2 separate regions of the Homo sapiens genome follow, and region 2 is linked to region 1. Evidence: fine-mapped expression QTL. A gene starts in region 1. The other region holds a variant in brackets. All regions are shown on one strand. Distances are from middle to middle. Region 1 holds the start of PIK3CD (phosphatidylinositol-4,5-bisphosphate 3-kinase catalytic subunit delta). Region 2 holds the start of LOC105376712 (a long non-coding RNA gene).

Region 1 (11,981 bases):
CACTGAGGCAATTCTCCTGCCTCAGTCTCCCAAGTAGCTGGGATTACAAGTGCCTGCCACCAGGAATGGCTAATTTTTTTTTTTTTTTTTTTGAGACAGAGTTTCGCTCTTGTTGCCCAGACTGGAGTGCAATGGCATGATCTTGGCTCACTGCACCTCTACTTCCTGAGTTTAAGCAATTCTCCTGCCTCAGCCTCCTGAGTAGCTGGGATTACAGGTGCCCGCCACCATGCTCAGCTAATTTTTTGTATTTTTAGTAGAGATGGGGTTTCACCTGTTGGCCAGCATGGTCGTGAACCCCTGACCTCAGGTGATCCACCTGCCTAGGCCTCCCAGAGTGCTGGGATTACAGGCATGACACTGTGCCTGGCCGTATTTTTATTTTTTATTTTTTATTTTTTTATTTTTATTTTTATTTTTAGTAGAGATGGGGTTTTGTCACGTTGGCCAGGCTGGTCTCAAACTCCTGGCCTCAGGTGATCCGCCCACCTCAGCCTCCCAAAGTGCTGGGATTACAGGCGGGAGCCACCGCACCTGGCCGAAAGTGAAACTTCTTAGGACAGAGGCCTAACGAGACCCATGGCATGGTGAAAGTAGCAAGGATCTGGAAGAAGTTATTATAATAGATATTTATAGACTGTGTGGCCCTGAAAAAGGACTCAACTTTCCTGAGCCTCAGTTTTCTCATCCGTAAATTGGGGATAAGATTTACCTTGCTGGGCGGTTGTACGTATCAGGGAGAAAATATAACTTCTCCTCAGCCCCGGTAAGTTCATAGTTGGGACAGCCCGCCGTAACAAAAGACAGATTCACGTGAAAACCAAGCAAGTTTATTAACAGATGCAGTGCACATCACGAGGCAGAAACCTCAATGAAAGGTGACCCGAAGCAGTGGCTCAGAACTCTGGCTTACCCAGAATCTTTGACAAAGAAGAATGAATTTTCAAGAAGTGACAAGACAAGGGAAAGCAGTTTTAGGCTTCCAGAGGTGGGGAACTGTGGGAAGGTAAACATATGGGAGAAAAGGAATGGAGGAAGGTTTGTTTGTAGACTCTTCTGGTGTCTCCGAGCTGATAAGCGTTGTCTCCAGTAAAGTAGAATTTATGTCCTGTATTTAGGCATGTAAAAAGTCAAGACTGAGCCAGGTGTGGTGGCTCACGCCTGTGGTCCCAGCACTTTGGGAGGCCGAGGCGGGCGGATCACCTGAGGTCAGGAGTTGGAGACCAGCCTGGCCAACATGGTGAAACCCTATCTCTACTAAAAATACAAAAATTAGGGCCGGGCTTGGTGGCTCACGCCTTTAGTCCCAGCTACTCAGAAGACTGAGGCAGGAGAATCGCTTGAACCAGGGAGGCGGAGGTTGCAGTGAACCAAGATCGCACCACTGCACCCCAGCCTGGGAGACTCCATCTCAAAAAAAAAAAAAAAAATTAGCTGGGCATGGTGGCGGGCGCCTGTAGTCCCAACTACTTGGGAGGCTGAGGTGGGAGAATTGCTTGAAGATGGGAAGTGAAGGTTGCAGTGAGCCGAGATCGTGTCATTGCACTCCAGCCTTGGTTACAAAAGTGAGACTCTGTCTAAAAAAAAAAAAGTCAAGACTGGCAGGGCAGGATGGTTCACAGCTGTAATCCCAACACTTTGGGAGGCTGAGGCTGGCAGATTGCTTGAGTCCAGGAGTTTGAGACCAGACTGGGTGACATGACAAAACCCTGTCTCTACAAAAAAATTAGCCCATGCCTGTAGTCCCAACTACTTGGCAGGCTGAGATGGGAGGGTCACTTGGGCCTGGGAGACAGAGGTTGCAGTGAGTTGAGACTGCACCACCGCACTCCAGCCTGAGTGACAGAGTGAGACCCTGTCTCAAAATAATAATAAAACAATAATCATCTTTTAAAAGTTAAGATTACAACAAATCTAGTTTACAGATCTTAACTTTTATTCATGATTCTAATTATTATTATTATTATTATTATTATTATTATTATTATTAGAGACGTGGTCTCACTTTGTCACCCAGGCTGGATTGCAGAGGTGAGATCACAGCTCACTGCAACCTTGAATTTCTGGGCTCAAGGGATCCTCCTTCTACCTCAGCCTCCCAAGTAGCTAAAACTACAGGCACATGCCACCATGCCTGGCTAATGTTTTATTTTTTGTAAAGATGAGGTCTCACTATGTTGCTCAGGCTGGTCTTGATCCTCTAGCCCCAGCCTCCCAAAGTGTTGGAATTCCAGGTGTGAGTCATCCTGGCCTACTAATGAGTCTAAAATTGGGAGTCCCTCAGAACCAGGACAGGTTCAAAGGGCTTCAGCCAGTAACACAGTCAGAGTGTTTATGGATGTAAAACAGAAGTAAGCTATAGAGCTTAATTGGTTACAGTGTTTGCTTTGTTTGAATCAGTTGGCCACCTAAGATCTACTAAAGCTCAGCTGCTATAACTGACAAAAACTCAGCTATTTGCTACATGTATATACTCTTAAGTTAATTAGTTTCATTTACCATGAATGACTCCATATTGGTTTGGTCTGTTGGACCCGGTACAGGGGTCTTGTCCCAATCAATGGCCTCCTGCAAATTTTATTTAACAGGCAGAAAAGGGGAGATGATAGAAAGATCTCTTCATCTGCCTGCTGCTTCTTAATTGCCTTAAGTTCAAAAATATTTACGTCAAAGAGGTATATTTTGGGGGGACATATTCTGGTTTCCTTCATGGGGATCAAAGAGAACAATATGTAAGGCACATCTTAGCGCTTGACAACTTGGCATGCCTCCATTCTCCCGGCAGCATCTTGCATAGTAAAAAGCATGATTTGAATTGCTGTCAGCAAATACATATTCAATGAAGAATTCCTTTGGAAGATGCAAAACCATTCGTCATCTGGCTGTTTCTTGAAACAAACTCTAAAGACCAGAGGGCAGCGTTGAAAGTGCAGCCTAGCAAAAGCATGGTTAAGGCCAGGTGTTAGGAAACCTTAGGACGGGCCGCTCCCTCAGGACAGGCTGCTCACTCGGCCGTCAGAGTTCCTTCTGAAACGTCCATTTGTCTTCTGGCTCTTGGCATCCTTGAAACAGGCTAGAGACCGCTGCTAAGGCTCAGTAATCTGAGCCTGGGGTAAGCAAGAGGCTGTGAGCCTCAGACACTCCACTAGAAAGGATATACTAGTGTGCATTCCTGGGGACAGGCCCAACGTTCCTTCCAAAAGGGACCTGTGGTCCTTCCTGGCTCCTCTGCAAGTGTCCACTGGAGAACACAGAATCTGCAGCCTGCATCTTAGAAAACCTGGACCAGGCCGGGCGCAGTGGCTTATGCCTGTAATCCCAGCACTTTGGGAGGCTGAGGCGGGCAGATCACCCGAGGCCTGAGTGTGAGACCAGCCTGGCCAACATGGTGAAACCTCGTCTCTACTAAAAAATACAAAAATTAACCAGCCATGGTGGCACGCATCTGCAGTCCCAGCTACTTGGGAGGCTGAGGCATGAGAGTCGCTTGAACCCGGGAGGCCAAGGTGGCAGTGAGCCAAGATCATGCCACTGCACTCCAGCCTGGGTGACAGAGCAAGACCCTGTCTCAACAAACAAACAAACAAACAAAAAAAGCAAAAACAAAAAAAACTGGAACAATTGAGCAAGCCACTCCATCTTACCCAAGCCCTCTCCCCTTTCCTGGCTGGAATAACGGCCTCTGGGCCTCTCTCTCGCTCTTTTTCTTTTTTTTTCAAAGCAGAATCTCACTCCATCACCCAGGCTGGAGTGCAGTGGCACAGTTATGGCTCACTGCAGTCTCAACCTCCAGGGCTCAGGTGATCCTCCCACCTCAGCCTCCCGAGAATCTGGAACTACAGGTGCACACCACTAAACCCGGCTAATTTTTTCTATTTTTTTGTAGAGACTGGGTTTTGCCATATCACCCAGGCTGGTCTCAAACTCCTGGCCTCAAGGGATCCTCCAGCCTCGTCCTCCCAAAGTGCTGGGACTACAGGCCTGAGCCATCATGCCTGGCCTGGGCCTCTGCTTATTGCAGCCTCTGGAGCCAGCACGGGGCCCAAGGTGGTCCTGAGAGGCCCAGGCATCTCTTGGGTAGAAAAAGTCCTTCTCTAAGCCTCAGATCCCTCATCTGTCCAAGGGACCAATAACAGCTGCTTTACTTCCCAGGCTGGATTGAAGAGGGTCCTTTAAGCCATTGTTTCACTAAGCAATTGACTGGCTCACCCTTCACCCTATCCTGGGAGGGCATGAAGCCACTGTTGTAATCTCAGGGGTGGGCTCACCCACCACCCCCATACTCTTGGTCCACCAAAGCCTGGAGGTCGCTGCTGTCAACCCAGGGCTGAGCAAGGAGGGACTTAGGCCCTGGGCTGTCTCCCCGAGCCTCTCAGTCATGCCTGCTGTAGGGGAGGAGAGAGTGGCCTCCCTCTACCCTCTAAATTCCTTGGCTGGGCTCCACATTAAATTTACATAAGGCAGATTAACAAGAGAAAAACCATGTGTAACTAAGACCTATGCATGGGAATCCCACAAAATACAAGACTGGATGAAGGCTCAGATGAATAAAGCTCATATAACATCCTACAAGGGACAGGAAACATTCCTTCAGAAAGGAATAGGGCTTGGGTCAGGTGTGGTGGTTCACGCCTGTAATCCCAGCACTTTGGGAGCCTGAGGCGGGTGGATCATGAGGTCAGGAGTTCAAGACCAGCCTGGTGAACATGGCGAAACCCCACCTCTACTAAAAATACAAAAATTAGCCAGGCACGGTGGTGTGCACCTATAGTCCCAGCTACTCAGGAGGCTGAGGCAGGAGAATTGCTTGAACCCAGGAGGCTGAGGCTGTGGTGAGCCAAGATCACGCCACTGCACTCCAGCCTGGGCAACAGAACAAGATTCCTCAAAATAAACAAAACAAAGAAACAAAACAACAAAAAACAAACAAAAAAACATGAAAATCAGCTGGGTGTCGTGGCGTGTGCCTGTAATCCCAGCTACTTGGGAGGCTGAGGTAGGAGAATTGCTTGAACCCAGGATGCAGAGATTGCAGTGAGCCGAGATGGCACCACTGCATTCCAGCCTGGACAACAGAGCAAGACTGTCTCAAAAAAAAGAAAAGAAAAAAGAAAAAGAAAGAAAAGAAAAGAAAAAAAGGAATAGAGGCTTGGGATCCTGGGGAGGTGGTACACAAGTTAAGGGAGAGTGAGGGGAGAGAGGGTAAGGTGAATGAAGCTTGTCTTCTTATGCGGATAAAATTTCTCAGGTAAGAAAAGTTAGCTCTGAGCAGCCCTCCGCCTGATACTAATACTTTACCAATGGAGATTTTCCTTTTCTTTTCTGTTTTTGAGACAGGGTCTCACTTTGTTTCCCAGGCTGGAGTGCAGTGGTGCCATCATGGATCACTGCAGCCTCCATTTCCCTGGCTCAAGCCATCCTCCCACCTCAGCCTCCCGAGTAGCTGGGACTACAAGGTGTGCACCACCACGACTGGCTAATTTTTAATTTTTTTGTAGAGACGGGGGTTTCCCTATGTTGCCCAGGCTGGCTTGAATTCCTGGGCTCAAGTGATCCTCCCGCCTCGGCCTCCCAAATTGCTGGGATTGCAGGAGTGAGCCACAGTGCCAGGCCTGGAGATTTTCTTTATAGATAGAAATCATTTTACAAAAGGACAGCTTTTCAGATCTACTCCTGTGCCTGCAGTTTCTAAGAATAATCCCTTCAAAATATGGCGAAGAAGTATATTTTGGGGTGGCACACGCTGGTCTCCCATAGTCACATTTTGGGTGTGTGTCCTGAGCCCCAACACTGGTCACCTCGCAATGGCGCTTGGGGTCCCTGGGTGCCTAGAGCTGCAGGTTACCCCCTCTTCTTCTCCTGCTCTCAGCCTTTCTCCCGCTCCTGCTGAAATTCTTTCCTGCGTGAAGGCGGAGCGCTTAAAGGCGCCTAGGACCTTTATTTCGTTGTTTTCCTTTGCATAAAAAGAAAACTTGTTTTGTAGAAGGGCAAGCAAGGTGCAGCTTCCAGAGGCACCTGGGATGATGCCCCTCTAGCGGTAGGCGAACTGGGGAGTGTGGGCGGCGGGGGAAGGCGAGGCCCTGGAGGACCTGTTGTTTTTCCTGTTGCAAGTGAAAAGGAAACAAAGTGGGAAGTGGAGTGTGCGGGTTGGCGGCAGGCGGGGCGCCCCGGCGCGCCCCGCCTCCCTCCCTCGAGGCTCACTCGCGCCCAGCGCAGTCGCTCCGAGCGGCCGCGAGCAGAGCCGCCCAGCCCTGCCAGCTGCGCCGGGACGGTAAGCGATCGCCGCTGGCTGCGTCAGGGGAGGTGGGAAGAGGACCGCGGCCAGGGGCTTTGGGAGCTGCGGCTGCGCTCGGGGGCGCGGGGCTGGCTGGCGGGCGTCTCTCCGGCACACACAGCCCGTGCGCCCTGGCCCTGGGCGCCTCCCCGAGTCTAGCGAGCCGGGTCCTGGGAGCCCCGGGGGCCGGGCTGCTGGGACCTGGGCGGGGGCTGCCCTAGAGGCCCGGGGCCGTCCCCCGTGGGCCCGCCGAGAGGGGCGTGCGCAGCTCCCCGGCGCCTGCACTGCGCGCCTTGCCCGCCTGGCCCGGCAGCGGGGTTTCAGCTGCGCTCACAGCGGCGGTGCGGCCTCCGGTGCGCCGGCTGAGGCGCGAGGATACTGGAAGCGCTCAGCGCGTGCGCCCGCTCCGAGCGCTGACTAGAGGACCAGGGGCCTCCTCTGTACGGCAGCGGGGTCCACAGAGAGCGCGCTGGTGATGTCGCCCGAGTGCCCTGGCGCGGAGAGAGGGCTGCGCACAGTTCGCCGGCGCCCGGGTCCTGTGCGCCCTTCCCAGCCTGGGCAAGTGGGGAGCGGGGCTGCAGAGGGGCCGGGGTGGAAGTTTTCGGGGCTTCCTCCCGGCTCGTGGACCCGCGCCCCGCCTCCCAGTCCCGGGCCTCCCGCGTTGCTCGCCGCGTTTGCTGCAGCGGCGCAGGCGAGATCAGCTCCGGATCTGCGGCCGAGCCGGGGTTACGCCGGCAAAACCGCCCCCAGCTTTGCATTTCCGGACTTTTTAAAAAAATACTCTTACCCGTAATTCAGCCTGAATGAGGCTTTTTAAAAAAATCGAGTTTCCTGTTTTTATTTAGGCTTCCTCATTTGCACCTCCTCCTTTGAGGTAGAGAAGAGGGGAACTGGGACGACCTTTCGTGGGCACCAGGATGGGGGCGTTGCAGGGCGGGGAGACGGGGGTCCAGAGAACCGGGGAAGGGCCGCTGGGAGGTCCCGAAAAGTGCGCTGTGGGTGGGGCGAGGGTGAAGCAGGTAGGGGCGAGATTTCCGGGGTCGCGGGTGGGGGGCGCCCTGGAGCGGCCAAGGTGCAGGGTCCTCGCGTGGCACCCTTGGGATCTGCCCAGTTTGCGGATGGAGCGCGGGGCTGATCGGGCAGGTCTCACTTGTGCAGGTGTTCCCTGGAAGGTGGGACCTGCAGATCTTGAACCCCACCAGACTCCATCAAGGGGGCTTCTTCCCGCCGATTCCTGAGAAGTCCTACCTCTGAGATGCTGGGCACAGCCGCACGTGGATGTGGGCGGGTGTGCCGTGGGTTGGAGTGGGAAGGGGCAATTATTCCTCTCTCAGGGCTCTCGGAGGGGAAGGTTTACTGCTCCCTAGGGACTTTGAAACCAAGGGCTAACCCCCTGCTCTCTTCCAGGAGAGTGGGATACCGCCCGGGTGCCTGACGGTGCCTTGGTGTTCTTGACAATTGAATGGTACCATCGGGACATTACTCCCCAAAGAACTGGTCGTTCTTACCTAGGTGATTTCAGCTGGACAACTGTAGGAGCTGAGTGGTGTTGTCTTCATTTTACAGTTAAGGAAACGAAGGCTCAGAAAAGTTAAATAACTCACCAACCCACACAGTTTACAAGTAGTTTCTCCAGGATCCCAGCTCTTTCCGACGCCAGCGCGTTTAATCATCTGGGGGTGCCGTTGCTTGCGGGGGAAGGAGAATGTCCTAGTAATTCTCTTGGGGGGGATTTGGAGGGGACGACTGTTCAGAGAGGCACCCTCTAAGATACCCTTGAGACTCCTCTGTAACACCCGCTGCTGCTGTTCACACCCCCTCCCCAATTTGATTGATGTGTTGAGTGGGGCGGAAGGTTCTTTTGGTTGATGAGGCTGCGACCAAACGCAAGGAGATATAAATAGAGCTTTCTCTTTGGCTCTCTCTAGAGCAGAAATGCCAACCCCTTAGCATTTCCATGGCCTGCTGGAGTTTCATTTCTTGATATTAGGATTCCAGCCATCTTGGCTGGTGAGAGGCCTGCTGGCGGCTTCCTGGGCTTGGTCCTCTTTTGGTGCTTTCACAGAATGATGGAAGACACTGGAGTGGGCTGGAGGAGTGCTCTTAAAACCCAGTTGTGGCTGAGAGCGGTAGCTCATACCTGTCATCCCAGTGCTTTGGGAGGCCCAGACGGGAGGATCACTTGAAGCCAGGAGTTCAAGGTTGCAGTAAGCTATTACAGTGCCACTGCGCTCCAGCCTGGGTGACAGAGCAAGAGCCCATCTCTGAGAAACATAATACAACAACCCAGTTGCCTGCTCCAGAGACAACTAAGCTAGCCTCCTTCTGAGCCCCACTTCCCCCGCCCTTCAGCCCCTGTTCAGAAACAGACTACATTGGCCACACTACTCACTTAGATGTTTCTGGAATTAGGGCACGTGCCCCAGAGGTACTCCCGACCACGCAGATGTCCCCTTCTGGCAGGAAAAGCGCGTTTCTGCGTTTCTGCAGCCTCAGTCCACGCCGCCAGGTCTTTGCACTAAGCTGTGGGCTCCGTTTCTCCTCCGATACCATGTTTAGCAAGTGTTTCCTGAGATCACACGGGGTGCCAGGGGCTGTGCTAAGAACAGGGCAGGCAGACTGGGAGGGCATCAGCCCCTGGGGGGCTTACAGGACAGACAGTCCACCAATGGTTGTGCGAAAGCCAGCCCGCTTTCGCACAACTGTCCGATGGAATTCATGGAGGTGGGAGTGGGGATGGTGAGAGTCGGTTCCTGCTTCATCTTGTTTTACTTAAATTGCACAGTGAAAGGGAGAAGTGAATGTGCAACGGATGAAGCAATTCCCCTTTGGCTGGGTTATTTTCAAAACCATTTTTGTGTAGAGAGCAGTTCCCGCCCTCCCTGAGGCCAGCTGCCGGTGTGGGCCTGATGGTGGGGTTTGGGGCCCCAGCAAATGTTTCCTTAACGTGGGACCTTCAGAAGGCTCTTTCAGGCTGGGCGCGGTGGCTCACGCCTGTAATTCCAGCACTTTGGGAGGCCGAGGTGGGCGGATCACTTGAGGTCAGGAGTTCAAGACCATCTTGGCCAACATGGTGAATATCTGTCTCTACGAAAAATGCAAAAAAAAAAAATTAGCTGGGCGTGGTGATGAGCACCTGTAATCCCAGCTACTTGGGAGGTGGAGGCAGGAGAATCGCTTCAATCCGGGAGGTGGAGGTTGCAGTGTGCTGAGATTGTGCCACTGCACTCCAGCCTGGGCAACAGAGTGAGACTACATTTCAAAAAAAAAAAAAAGAAAAAAAAGCTCTTTCAGCCAGGAGGGTGGCTTCAGCTACTCCCCAGGGGACAAGTGTGTTTTTCAGCAAAGCTGTTAGAGAAGATGGTCTAGAAGCAGTACCCCGGGATGGAGGAGACAAGGAAGGGCCCTATCCACTGGAGGATGGCAGAGCCTGGCTTGTTTGAAAGGGAGGAAAATATTGTCATCTTGGTACCGGTGACAGTGTTTCATAAATAGCGAAGGTGGCAAAACGCCACCTCTCTCCCTACAGTTAACGCTAAGACTGAGTTGTCTTTAGTTTGGTTGGTGGAAATCCCCGGCAATCATAGCAGAAATGCTGCCAGTTTCAAGATGGAAAAAATAAAAAACCCAGGAACCCCCCGCCCCCCCCCCTTTTTTATTGCAGCTAAACACTGTGACTTGCTGTGGGTCCTACCAAAATAACGGCCATTCTCCCCTCCCTGAGGGCCAGCACAGTCCCTAGGGCCTGTGAAAGTTCCCCTTCCAGCTGCACTGGCTGGATATGCGTGAAACTCCCCTCCCTCCCCAGAAGTCACAACCTTACCACCTCGGATAAGGGTCAGGGCTCCTGGAAATGGGTCCCTTTTCCTATTACTTTCTTTCTTTTTTCTTCTTTTTTTTTTTTTTTTTTGAGACGGAGTCTCGCTTTGTCGCCCAGGCTGGAGTGCAATGGTGTGATCTCGGCCCACTGCAACCTCTGCCTCCAGGTTCAAGCGATTCTCCCACCTCAGCCTCCTGAGTAGCTGGAATTACAGATGTGCGCCACTATGGCCAGCTATTTTTAGTATTTTTAGCAGTGACGGTGTTTTGCCATGTTGGCCAGGCTGGTCTCGAACTCCTGACCTTAGGTGATCTGCCCACCTTGGCCTCCCAGAGCGCTAGGATTAAAGGCGTGAGCCACCATGCGCGGCCTTCCTATTACATTCTGAGCACAGGGGGAGTGATCAGAGTGAAGGGTGTGGCATTTCCAAAGTGGTATTTCGGTTGGCTTCTGTTTCACTCATATTGGGGGAAATTGCTTCCACTTAGAGAAAATGCCGGAAGAGTGGGCGGTGCCAGGAGTAGGGTGGGGGAGGAGGAGATGCAGAAAGGGATAGACCTATTTGGGATTTTTGGTCCTGGAGGGATGCTGTACGGGTTAAGTATCCCTTATCCAAAATGCTTGGGACCAGAAATGGGGTGGAGTTTGGATTTTGGAATATTTGCATTATATGCTTACCAACTGACCATTCCAAATCCAAATATCTGACATCTGAAATGCTCCAAGGAGCTTTGTATTTGATCATGATGGCACTCAAAAATTTTGGATTTTGGAACGTTGTAGATTTCAGATTTGGGATGCTCAACCAGTGTTAACCTCCTGTGGTTGCTGTAACAAATGACCTCAAACTTTGTGGCTTAAAACAGAAACGTGCATGCTTATAGTTTCAGCTACTTGGGAGGCTGAGGTGGGAGGATCACTTGTGCCCAGGAGTTTGAGGCTGCAGTGAGCCATGATTGAGCCTGTGAGTAGCCATGGCACTACAACTTGGGCAACATTGCGAGATCCTGTCACTAAAAGAAAACAACAGCAATGGGCCGGGTGTGATAGCTCACGCCTGTAATCCCAGCACTTTGGGAGGCTGAGGCGGGTGGATCACCTGAGGTCAGGAGTTCAAGACCAGCCTGGCCAACATGGTGAAGCCCCGTCTCTACTAAAAATTCAAAAATTAGCCAGGCGTGGTGGCACGTGCCTGTAGTCCCAGCTATTCGGGAGGCTGAGACAGGAGAATTACTTGAACCCAGGAGGCAGAGGTTGTAGTGAGCTGAGATTGTGCCACTGCACTCCAGCCTGGGTGACAGAGCGAGACTCCATCTCAAAAAAAAAAAAAAAAAAAAATGTATTCTCTCACAGTTCTGGAGGCCAGAAGTTAAAAATTAAGGCATCAGCAAGGCCTCGCTCCCTCTGGGGGCTGTAGGGGGAGAATCCTGCTTTGCTCTTCCTTCTGGGGGCTCCAGCGTATCTTGGCCTGTGGCTGCATCACTCCAGTCTCTGCCTCCGTCTTCACAAGGGCATCTCCTCCGTGTGTCTGGGTCTCCGTCTGTCTCTTTTAAGGACACTTCTTGTTGGATTTAGGGCTCCCTCAGATAATTCAGATAGAAATCATTTCAAGATCCTTAACTTACTTACATCTGCAAAGACCCATTTTCCACATTATTATTTTTCCAGATAATGTCCAGGTCCTGGGGGTTAAGACCTATCTTTGTGGGGGCCACCAATCAGCCCGCTTACAGATAAACAGGAATGTCTTTCTGTATTTTCTGGGGACGGTGGGAAGTGCGGTTATCTTTGCAGGGAAGCCGCCCTGTTCTGCCACTTTCCCCTGGGTGACTTTAGGCAAAGATGTCAGAGTCCCTGGTGGTCTCTGCTGGACCATTGACCCCAGCC
Region 2 (11,981 bases), 20 kb before region 1:
CAGGTGTGCACCACCACACCCAGATAGTTTTTAAAATCTTTTGTAGAGACAGGGTCTTGCTATGTTGCCCAGACTGGTCTCAAACTCTTGGCCTCAAGCGATCCTCCCACCTAAGCCTTCCAAAGCGCAGGGATTACAGGCCTGAGCCAGTGTGCCAGGCCACAAACTTTTTTTTCTTTTTTTTTTTTTTTTTTTTTTTTGAGATGGAGTTTCGCTCTGTCACCCAGGCTGGAGTGTGGTGGTATGATCTTGGCTCACTGAAACCTCCGCCTTCTGGGTTCAAGCGATTCTCCTGCCTCAGCCTCCCAAGAAGCTGGGATTACAGGCATGCGCCCCCACACCCGGCTAATTTTTGCATTTTTAGTAGAGACAGGGTTTCACCATGTTGGCCAGGCTGGTCTCAAACTCCTGATCTCGGGCAGTCTGCCCACCTTTGCCTCCCAAAGTGCTGGGATGACAGGCATGAGCCACCACGCCCGGCAGATTTTTCAAGATATAATATCAAGTTGAGGGACAGCTCTCCCTCTTTGCCTTTCATTTCTTTCCTTCCCTTCCTTGGAAATTCAGTCCAAAAGGCACTGGGGGAGTTACAAGCCATGGAGCGGCCCCCCTGGGTGGCCAGGTGTGCCCATCAGACCTCCAGCCAGGTGAGGGTGGAAGTCACCCAGGAGGGCGACCTGCTGGGAGGTATCAGAGCCTGGCAGGGGTGGAGAGGAGGGAGTCCTCTCAGGGAGTCAGAGTGGAGTGAGAAAGGCAATTGGTGGGGTGTGGGAGCCCGAGTGGGGTGAGGCGGCACCTGGGACATGGCACTGGTGACCAAGGGCCCTACCCCACTTTACTCTTCTCCCTAGCACTTACCACTGTGCAAGATGTTAGGAATGTACTTGTTTGTTTCTGTATCATCAGCCGCGCCCACCCACCCACTAGAAGATCCTCCAGGGCAGGGACTTGGTCACTGCTGTATCCTCAGGGCATACTGGTGGCATTTGATAAAGTGCAGAATGAATGGGTGTAACTTGTAGCCCCTATCCCTTGACCATCTCAGACAGCAAGACTTGGCAACACCTGCATGAGGCTGCGGGCAAGAGAGAGAAGTGAACCCTGTTGGGGATTTCTGCTTTGACCACAGAGGAGAGAGGGGATAAGCTTTCGCTGAAGCAGAAAGGAAGAGTGAGCCAGGGGCAGATCCGGGTGGCCAGGGAGTCGGGTTGGGGCAGATTCCGTTTGCAGGGGCCTGCAAGTGCCTGGGTGGGGACGCCCCCAAGGCTGCTGGAGAGGGGGTCCGGGGCACAGGGTCGCAGAGCTGGGCAGGGAGGAAGGGAGGGTGAGCTCCAGGCTGAGCTGCCAGTACCAAGGCTGCGGCAAGCAGCTCTAGAACAATCTGCCACTTGCAATGCAGGAATTAAGAAAGGAGGCCAGGCGCGGTGGCTCACGCCTGTAATCTCAGCACTTTGGGAGGACGAGGCGTGGGCGGATCACCTGAGGTCAGGAGTTCAAGACCAGCCTGGCCAACATGGTGAAACCCCGTCTCTGCTAAAAATACAATTAGCTGGGTGTGGTGGCGCACGCCTGTAATCCCAGCTACTCAGGAGGCTGAGGCAGGAGGATCTCTTGAACCCAGGAGGTGGACGTTGCAGTGAGCCGAGATCGCAGCATTGCACTCCAGCCTGGGCGACGGAGAGAGACTCCGTCTCAAAAAAAAAAAAAAAAAGAAATGGGAGGTTTGGAGGGACACAAAACACAGTTTCAACAAAATGAGCTTTGCTGACTCAGTACCTGCCCCAGGACCCCAGCAGCGCCAGGGTTTACGCTCATTTCTCCATCCCTGGAGGAAGCGGGCAGGAGAGAAAGTGAATTCCGCTTTCCCAGTCCCGAGAGTGCGGCGGAAACCACGCGGCGCCGCCGGGCGGGCAGCAGGGGGAGCCGCTGAGCCAGGGGCTGAGGGTTGCAGGCGGCTGTGGCCTTGGCCAGGCATCACCACCAGGTGGCGCCGCGCGCTTCCCTGGCGCCCAACCCGGAGGCCGCGAGGTCGGGGAGCGGATGCCCGGGGGAGACGCCGGCTGGGCGACCTAAGGCTCCGGGCACCCGGGCTCCGTGGCGGCCTCTTTGCCTCCTGCAGGGGTGGCGGCAGCACAGAGGTGTGCACCTCCACAGCTGGCTTCACACCCGCGGAGATGGAAACCCGTGCACGAGGCTGAGAGCACGAGCATCCAACAGGCTGGGGTTTGAATCCCTGCGCAGCTGCCTGCACGAAGGCGTGGGCCTCGCCTCTCTCCACCTCAGACTTCGCGCCCGTCAGTGGGAGCATGACGCTGATCTCACAGGGCGGCTGTAAGGATTAAATTAGGTGACAGTGGTGATGATGATGATGATAACATGTGTACTGAGTTCTCATCCAGGTCTGGCATGGTTCTGGGCACTTTACAGATATTAACTTATGATTCTAGTTCCCTGTGATGTTGGGGTGGCTGAGGACCAGGGGCTGAGTCTCCTGCACAAAGGGAAGGGCGGCCAGGCCTCCCTTATCGCGGCCACCTTCCCTGCTGGCCCCGGGTGCTGTTGGTGCTGAGGGATGACTGCTGCCCAAAGGCAGTAGAGAGAGGAGGGGCCTTCGATGCTAAAGGCCAGGGGGCCTCTTGTTTCTAGTTCCGCAGCCCCGCAGCCCACGGCTACAGGGAACAGAGGCCGCGGGTGGCAGAGCCCCACTGTTGATCTGAGAACAATGGAGGAACCATGGAGGCAGATGGCACCTCCCGCAGGAGCCAGGGGGTTGAGGCTGCAGTGAGCTGAGATCGCGTCACTGCGATCCAGCCTGGGCGACAGAGCGAGACGCCTGTAGTCCCAGCACTTTGGGAGGCTGAGGCCAGTGGATCACCTGAGGTCACCAGTTTGAGACCAGCCTGGCCAACATGGTGAAACCCTGTCTCTACGAAAATACAAAAATTAGCTGGGCGTGGTGGCGCATTCCTGTAACCCCAGCTACTCGGGAGGTTGAGGCAGGAAAATCGCTTGAATCTGGGAGGCGGAGGTTGCAGTGAGCCAAGATTGTGCCACTGCGCTCCAGCCTGGGTGACAGAGTGAGACTCCATCTCAAAAAGAAAGAAAGAAAAATACTCTTAGCGCAGAAACATCCAGTCTCACAAAGCCCAAAGATGCCATTCTAGAATATACTAGAAGGATAGCTCAAACACTCACATTTTATGGGGGTTCACTCTGTGTCAGGCACGATTATAAGCATTTTTACATATATGAATTATTTATTTCCAACAGCAATTCTAAAAGTTGAGCACCGGCCTCCGCTGTGGTCTAAGCAACGCCAGAGCCTTCTGGGAAAGGCGCCCCTGCCGTGGAGGGAGGATGGGCCAGTGGTGGGTGAGTGGAGGCCACAGCTCAGCTCTGAGGTTTCAGCCTCAGTGACCGGGCAGACTGCCTTCTTTGCCTTCCTCACACGGAGGTGGCCCAGAGTTGGTGGCCCTGGTGAGATTGGTTGGAGGTGTGTTGAGTTTGAGGGCTCTGTGGAATGTTGGGGGGATTTCCAGAGGCAGCTGGAGGGGAAGAGCTGGTGGCCAGGGTGGAGGAGTGGGTGGTGAAGGAGGAGTGGGTGGTGAAGGACAGACGAGCTGCGGTCAAGACTAGGGAGACACTGGGCAGTAAGGGTGATCCCGAGGACTCAGATCCCCCAGGACCCTCGGAAGGAAAAGGTTGGGCGGTGGGAACTCCATGGGAAGGTCCCCAGAAGCCCCCGTTTGCCGTCTGTGGTCTGCCCTGGGGCAGGCAGGGCGAGGGGGCTTCATGACCCAAGTGAGGGGCGGGCCTGGGTGGGGAGTATTTTCAGCGGGTTCTCTCCCCACTGTCACCCCAGTGAGGCCACCTGAGGTCACCTCTTCCCCTGGGGGTCTCGGGCCACTGACGCCTCTAAGGACTGGGGCTGCTGTGAGTTGCGGCCCCGGGAGGAAAGGGTGAGTCTGAACTCACTTGAAGCTCTGAGTCCTGGGGCTTCAAGGCCACACCTACCTGAGTTTGTGTTGGGGGTTGGTGCCCTCCCTCTGCGGTTGTCACTGGGGTGCCTTCCCCCCAGGCTCCTTCTCCTCTTCTCCGAGAAAGAGGCCGGGGCACCTGTCCTCCCAGCTCACACATTCCAGGAACCCCCAGGGGAGGACGGTCCTCAGCAGCTGACCCTCTCCCCTTTCTTACCACCAGCCGAGAATGAGGATGTGCTGAGAAGCCAGAAACAGCACTCCCTGCCCCCCCACCCCCGCCCCCACCCACCACGCTCAGAGGCCTAGAACAAAAACATACCACAAATAGAAATCAAAGCCTGAGAAAGAATCGAGGAGCCACGACCCTGCCGTGGGAAAGGCTGTGTGACCTTGGCCAGGTCACTTCACTTCTCTGAGCGCACTTGCCTGTCTGTAAAATGGGGTCATGGTCTCAACCTTGGGGAGCTGCTGGGAGAAGGTGAGCTAAGATGTCAGAGGCAGGGTGCAGGTGTGAAGTTCGGTCTAAAACAAAGCCCCTCGCCACAGGGTACTCGCCGGACTCCCAGCTCGCCCTAAGGCTCCCCCACCCCTGCAGTCGGGCCGGGACCGCCCCTGAGCACTTCCCCGTAAGGCTGCGGTGCACGGGCTGGGGAGCACTTCTGCACCCTCGCTCTCCACTTCCTGTTTTTCTCCCCAACGAATTTTGCGCCATTACTCTTTCATGGGGTGAGGGGGGAGTGGGGGCGGAGGCGGAGGCCTGCCTGGGAAGGAAGCCCGGGGGTCAGAGGCGCCCAGGACACCACGAGGTTGGGAGAGGAGTGTGCTTTGCACTCTGCACTCTCCAGCTCAGAGTAGCTGAGGATGCTAGGGAGACTGGGGGCTGGCCCACGG[G/C]GGGAGCAGAGGAGTCCTCAGTGCGGTCCTCACTCTGAAAACAGCATTTTTCCCTAGGCTTGAGAATGCCTCCGGGATTGGACTGATCCAGGCTGGACCCACGTCTGTCTGGTGATACCAGGGGCAGAGGGACCACTCTGACAGGTGAGTCTAGCCTCCCTACCCCCCGGAGGCCGTCAGGCCTTGGATCATGGACTGCAGGGTCACTCGGTGTCAGGCCCCTCCTTGAAGGGTGTGAAGGGGCTGTTCCTGCACTGGCTAGGATGTGGACACTTGTCCTTTCTCTTCCTCGGCTACAGCCCCCTGGCCCCTGGGCAAAGCATCACCTTGTCCCTTCATGACCACATCACTCATGTATTCCTTCATTCAGCATTTCTACAGACTCACTGGTGATGCCCTCTGGGTGCCAGACACAGGGGAGCAGCCCAGGAGCCTGTCCAGATCCATGTAGAGTCCCTGCTCCCAGGAGCAGCTGAGCGAATAGGCAATCATGGTTGAGTAGACCAAGAGCTGGGAGGGGATGATATAGCCAGGAGTATGATGAAGGGCCCCTTCGGGCAAGGGGGCCAAGGCAGGTAACATCTGTGCTGGGCCCGAATTCTACTGAGTAGTTAGCAAAGAAAGTGAGTGTGTGTGTGTGTGTGTGTGTGTGTGTGTGTGCAGAAGAGGGCAGAAGGAAGTGTGGGGAAGGGCACTCCAGGTAAAGGGAACAGCATGTGCAAACGTCCAGAGTCAGACAGCAAGCCTGGGATGTTCTGGAGCTACAAGTCCCGGCTCCTGGCCCAGCAGGGAGGGCAGAGAGGGGGAAGTGATGGGAGGTGACCCTGGGAGGCTGGCTGGGTTGGCTCCATTCAGATGATTGGTCATCCATTTGTTCTCAAGCTATAGCCTCACCCTGCACACCGGGACAGAGTTCATGCCCCAGCCTAAGCTCAGAAACCAGCTCCCTTTCGCTCAAGCAGGAAAGGGGACTGACTTTACAGCAGAGATGCAGGGTGCTCTTATCAGACCCAGAGTTGCAGACAGCCCAGGGACACTTCTCAGTGCCACTCACCTGTCTGCCCCCATCTGCCCGTCTGCATCACACCTGTCAAGCTGCTACATCCTGGATCCCTTCACCCAAAGAGAACTATGTGTGGTCCCAAGCCCACCTCCCTGGGAAGGACTTGATTAGCCTGTGTTGGATCCAGGCCTCCCTTCCAGTCCGTTCAGCTGGCTAGTGGTCAAGTGTGAACGCTAAGCATCTGTCCTCATGGGTACATGACAAAGGATTACCAAAAGGGGGTCAGACTGGCCGGGTGCAGTGGCTCATGCCAGTAATCCCAGCATTTTGGGAGGCCAAGGCAGGCAGATCACTTGAGGCCAGGAGTTCAAGACCAGCCTGGACAACATGGTGAAACCCCGTCTCTACTAAAAATACAAAAAATTATCTGGGCATGGTGGCAGATGCCTGTAATCCCAGCTACTCAGGAGGCTGAGGCAGGAGAATCGTTTGAACCCTGGATGCGGTGGTTGCAGTGAGCTGAGATGGCGCCACTGCACTCCAGCCTGGGTGACAGCCTGGGTGACAGAGCAAGACTCCAACTCAGAAAAAAAAGGGAGGGGGGCAGGTCGGCCTAATGGCCTAAAGGCCAGTGGTGTCCATTCTAGTTCATTCCATTCTGGTCCTGCCCAGCACAGAGGCCCTTGCCCAGCTCCTTTGGCTTTTCCCAGATATCCTCATTCCAGTTGTCCTTGCTTTACCTCGTCCTGCCACACCTCAAAGTCAATCTCAAATACCTCTCCCCCGTCAAATGAGGTGATCCAAGCCATCTCACCATGTTAAACTGTTGCATCCAGGGCTCTATTCTCAGAGCTGCCATCTTCATCTGATATCCATCCTTCTTCCCTCCCTCCCTCCCTCCCTTCCTTCCTTCTTCTATCTTTCTTTTTTTTATTTTTGTTTTTTTGAGATGGAATTTTGCTCTTGTTGCCCAGGCTAGAGTGCAATGGTGCGATCTCAGCTCACTGCAACCTCCGCCTCCTGGGTTCAAGCAATTCTCCTGCCTCGGCCTCCTGAGTAGCTAGGATTACAGGCATGCGCCACCACGCCCAGCTAATTTTGTATTTTTAGTAGAGATGGGGTTTCTCCATGTTGGTCAGGCTGGTCTCAAACTCCCGACCTCAGGTGATCTACCTGCCTCTGCCTCCTAAAGTGCTGGGATTGCAGGCGTGAGCCACCGCACCTGGCTTCTTCTTTCTTTTTTTTAAAGACAGAGGGTCTCAACTATGTTGCCAGGTTGGAGTGCAGTGGCTATTCACAGGTGCAAGGATAATGCACTACAGCCTCAAACTCCTGGGCTCAAGCGATCCTCCCACCTCAGCCTCCCAAGTAACTGGGACTGCGGCCATGTGCCGTCATGCCCAGCTGCCCTCTGTTTCTGCTGAATCTCTTCCCTGGTGGCTCTCCAGGATCCTCTCAACAGAGGAACAGATCAATTTAACCTCTCCTACCATACTTGATCTATAGAGCAAAAATGTGGATGCAATATACAAAGCACGCGCTGCAGCATTCCAGGTGGGTTGGGTCAATTGAACATTAGGAACAAGGTATCACTTGGGGTTTGCTCTGTGGCTACCTTCCTTGGCCCCTTTGTTGACAAATGTGACTACCCCAAGTTCTGCCCATTGAGAAGGAATCTCTAGATCCCTTCTAGTCTAGAGCCTCTCAGACCCACCCTTGAGAGTTTCTTGGGAAGGCGGCTTCTAGGAGGTGATATAATTACCTTAGCAACCTGATTCTTTTTTTTTTTTTTTTTTGAGACAGAGTCTCGCTCTGTTGCCCAGGCTGGAGTGCAGTGGTGCCATCTCGGCTCACTGCAAGCTCCGTCTCCAGGGTTCAGGCCATTCTCCTGCCTCAGCCACCTGAGTAGCTGAGACTACAGGTGCCTGCAACCACACCCGGCTAATTTTTTGTATTTTTAGTAGAGACGAGGTTTCACCATGTTAGCCAGGATGGTCTCCATCTCCTGACCTCGTGATCCGCCCGCCTCGGCCTCCCATAGTGCTGGGATTACAGGCGTGAGCCACCGTGCCTGATCAGCAACCTGATTCTTGTTGGTGCTGGTACTTTGGCTTAGGAATTCTCCAGGTGGGGATGAGAGATCACAAACCCCAATTTGTCAGGCGTGGTTTCCTGGTTTTCAACTCTCGTAAAACGCTAGTTGGTTGCCTGTAACTTTTATTTGGGATCATGCCATTTACCAATAATCAATGTCGCTCTTGTCGCCCAGGCTGGAGTGCGATGGCGCAGTCTCGGCTCACTGCAAGCTCTGCTTCCTGGGTTCAAGTGATTCTCCTGCCTCAGCCTCCCTAGTAGCTGGGATTACAGGTGCTCACCACCACGCCCAGCTAATTTTTTGTATTTTTAGTAGAGACGGGGTTTCACTATTTTGGCCAGGCTGGTCTCAAACTCCTGACCTCAGGCCATCCACCTGCCTCAGCCTCCCAAAGTACTGGGATTACAGGCGTGAGCCATCGGGCCCAGCTAATGTCATGAAATCTTATGCGGTTGAACATTCAGCCTTAGACTAGGTCATAGGTCATGTCCCCGAGGTTTGGGTTTCTTAGCAGCAAATGTGAGGGCTAATTTCTTCTTTCAGCCTAAGAGTGAAAAGAGGAAATCATCGTCTGGCTTGGGATAGAAAGAAGGTTTTTTTTCTCTAATTTCTCTTGGAATGCTACCTCTGCCTGCCCTTCTACCACTGGACAATAGGAGATACCATCATGTTTGTCTGGGAAGAGGAAGTTCTTAAGAGGGACCAGAGACCTGTAATCCCAGGAGGTTAAGGGTTGTGTGCTCCTGTGGCTCTTTCCAGATATTCCCATTCCAGTTACTAGGCTCACAGACTTTTCCTTTTTTTCTTTTTTTTAGACAGGGCCTTGCTCTGTTGCCCAGGCTAGAGTGCAGTGGCGTGATCTCGGCTCACTGCAACTTCTACTCCAGGGCTCAGGTAATCCTCCCTCCTCAGTTTCCTGAGTAACTGGGACCACAGGTGTGTGCCACCACACCTGGTTAATTTTTGGGTTGTTTTTTTTTTTTTTTTTTTTTTGAGACAAAGTCTCACTCTGTCACTCAGACTGGAGTGCAGTGACATGATCTCAGCTCACTACAACCTCCGCCTTCCAGGTTCAAGCGATTCTCCTCAGATTCTGCCTCAGCCTCCTGAGTAGCTGGGATTACAGGCGTGCATCAGCAGGCCTGGCTAATTTTTGTATTTTTAGTAGACACGGGGTTTCACCATGTTGGCTAGGCTGGTCTTGAACTCCTTACCTCATGTGATCCACCAGCCTCGCCCTCCCAAAGTGCTGGGATTACAGGCGTGAGCTTCCATGCCTGGCCCTAATTTTTGTATTTTTTGTAGAGATGGGGCCTCGCCATGTTGCCCAGGCTGGTCTCAAACTCCTGAGTTCAAGTGATCTGCCCGCCTTGGCCTCCCAAAGTGCTGGGATTACAGGCATGAGCCACTGCGTCCAGCCTCCAAGTTTCTTAACACTTCAGCCTTTGAGTCCCATGAGGTCACTGAAAATAGTTTAACTCATCTGTTAACACAAAACAAGAACTGCCAGTGTCCCATCCAAAAATAGGAAAACCTCATTGCCCCTCACTCTGCCTCGAGTCAGCTAGTTTCATACTTTCTTTGAAAGTAACTTGAAACTTAACACCCCACTTCTGACACCAATATGTGTATTATTTGGGATTTTTTTGTTTTGAATAACAATATCCAACTCAAGAGAGTTTATACTGAGCTGACTATTGTCTCCCCAAAATTTGTGCTTACCCAGAAACTCAGAATGTGATCTTAATTGGAAATAAGGTCTTTGCAGATGTAGTTAGTTGAGATGAGGTCACATTGAACTTGGGTGTCCTTATAGGAAGAGGGAAATTTACACCAGACGAGGTGGCTCACGCCTGTAATCCCAACACTTTGGGAGGCCAAGACGGGTGGGTCACCTGAGGTCAGGAGTATGAGACCAGCCTGGCCAGCATAGTGAAACCCCCTCTCTTAGCCAGGCGTGGTGGTGCACTCCTGTAATCCCAGTTACTCAGGAGACTGAGGCAGGAGAATCGCTTGAACCTGGAAGGTGGAGGTTGCAGTAAGCCAAGATCTCACCACTGTACTCCAGCCTGGGCAACATAGCAAGACTCCATCCTGAAAAAAAAAAAAAAAGCTACAGGAACCAGGAGCTGAAAAGATGAGAATTTTCTTTCTCATCTGTGTCCCTCTCTTCCTCTCTGTGCATCTGCTGCATGATTCTCCCCCACTCTCTCTTCCTCTGCATATCCGCTCCTCTGATTTCTTTAGTCCTTTTGAGGGCAAAAGAGGCCCTGCAGCTCGCTGGCTCCATGTTAGACCACCCACGCTCCAGGTGTCTAAAGAACACTAACTCTATTCCCTTGATTCCAATTCCATATTCCCAGGGAAATCACTGATTGGCTCGCCTTGGGTCAGGTGATACCCCTGGTCTTATCAACTTGGATAGGGTCAAGGGCATGCTGGGCAGTCACACCTGACTGGAGACTGCTGGTGTAGCCATGTGGATGCGTGGGGGATCTCCTAGAGCCGGAGCTGGGCATCCATTGCCATAGCACTGTGCTCTTGCCATCTTGCAATTGCCTGGATTACAGCTGCAACTGGTTGAGGCTCTGCTGTCCACTGACAGACTTCTCCCATGCCAAGTGCATTCCTAAAGGAGTCCTTCTGATGGGTTCCCATCCCTGTACGGGGCTGCCCCTGTTACTGATGGAGCAGGCAGACATGTGAGCATCTGGCTGCCACAAATAGGGCCTGGAGCCCAGACAGATGAAACACTTGCCCATCCAAGGTCCTGGTATGAGCAGCAAGAGGGATTCGCTCTGACTTGGGAAAGGAAGTAAATAAATAAATACCCAGCTTTTTAATCTTACATTTATGTATTTTTATTACACTGTTAGCAAAATGTGAGCAGACAGACAAAAATGGAGATAAAACATTTGAAGCCCCACCTCTCTCTCAGCTTCCATTGTTCTAAGTCCCCTCCCACTGTGCCCATGTGTGTATGTCACACACAGTTGTGACCCAGGTACAAACAATTCTGCATTTTTTTGGGGGGGGACATGGTCTCACTCTGTTGCCCAGGCTGGAGTGCAGCAGTGCAATCTTGGCTCACTTCAGCCTCCACCTCCTGGGTTTAAGCAATTCTCATGCCTCAGCCTCCCCAGTAGCTGGGATTACAGGTGCCCACTACCATACCTGGATAATTTTTGTATTTTTAGTAGAGACAGGGTTTCACCATGTTGGCCAGGCTGGTCTTGAACTCCTGGCCTCAAATGATCCACCCACCTTGGCCTCCCAAAGTGCTGGGATTACAGGCATGAGCCACCTCACCAGGCTTTGCATTGCGTTTTTTCAGCGGAAGACACCATCAGTTCCCATGATGCTGTGGGTCTTCAGAATTGTCATTTTCAGTGGCTGCTTGCTCTTCCATTGAGTGGATGTACCATGCCTTTCTCTGGACGGTTCCAGCCATAGGGAGAAGGCAGCGGCTGGCCCTCCAGGTGGTAATGTGACACATTTTCTTCCTCCCATTTTTGGTTCATGGGCCAACTTAATGTTATCGCTTGTCCAATAAGCCCTATGCCCCTCCTCCTACCCGGCTTCAGGGTTGTAGAAAGGCCACCAAGGAGGGCGAAGCGCACAGCTTAGGGCTTAGGTGGATAGAGTTCATGAACCTCCACCTATCAAGTTGGTGATCTTGGCAAGTTACCTATGGCATGGTTTCTTTTTTTTCTTTTCTTTTCTTTCTTTTTTTTTTTGAGACGGAGTCTCTCTCTGTCACCCAGGCTGGAATGCAGTGGCCCGATCTCGGCTCACTGCAAGCTCCACCTCCCAGGTTCACACCATTCTCCTGCCTCAGCCTCCTGAGTAGCTGGGACTACAGGCGCCCGCCACCACGCCCGGCTAATTTTTTGTATTTTTAGTAGAGATGGGGTTTCACTGTGTTAGCCAGGATGGTCTCGATCTCCTGACCTCATGATCTGCCTGTCTTGGCCTCCCAAAGTGCTGGGATTACAGGTATGAGCTACTGGCC

The links. PIP is the estimated chance that this variant, and not a neighbour inherited with it, causes the effect.
Region 2: its variant is fine-mapped to the expression of PIK3CD in whole blood (TOPMed, PIP above 0.99).

Annotation. Positions count from the first base shown.
Region 1 is chr1:9,645,532-9,657,512 of GRCh38, forward strand. It overlaps PIK3CD (phosphatidylinositol-4,5-bisphosphate 3-kinase catalytic subunit delta), which reads left to right and starts at 6,200. Exons shown (of 24, transcript NM_005026.5): 1 at 6,200-6,271. It overlaps PIK3CD-AS1 (PIK3CD antisense RNA 1), which reads right to left and starts at 9,055. Exons shown (of 2, transcript NR_027045.1): 1 at 8,667-9,055; 2 at 7,079-8,512. RefSeq lists a silencer at 6,113-7,002 and enhancers at 7,183-7,252, 8,393-8,442.
Region 2 is chr1:9,625,210-9,637,190 of GRCh38, forward strand. LOC105376712 (a long non-coding RNA gene) reads right to left here and starts at 4,218. Exons shown (of 2, transcript XR_946951.2): 1 at 4,015-4,218; 2 at 3,238-3,474. It also overlaps a transcript of PIK3CD not described here. RefSeq lists enhancers at 962-1,101, 2,289-2,753, 5,317-5,366, 5,397-5,456 and silencers at 1,842-2,181, 4,707-4,816. The variant G/C (reference allele first, on the strand shown) is at 4,872.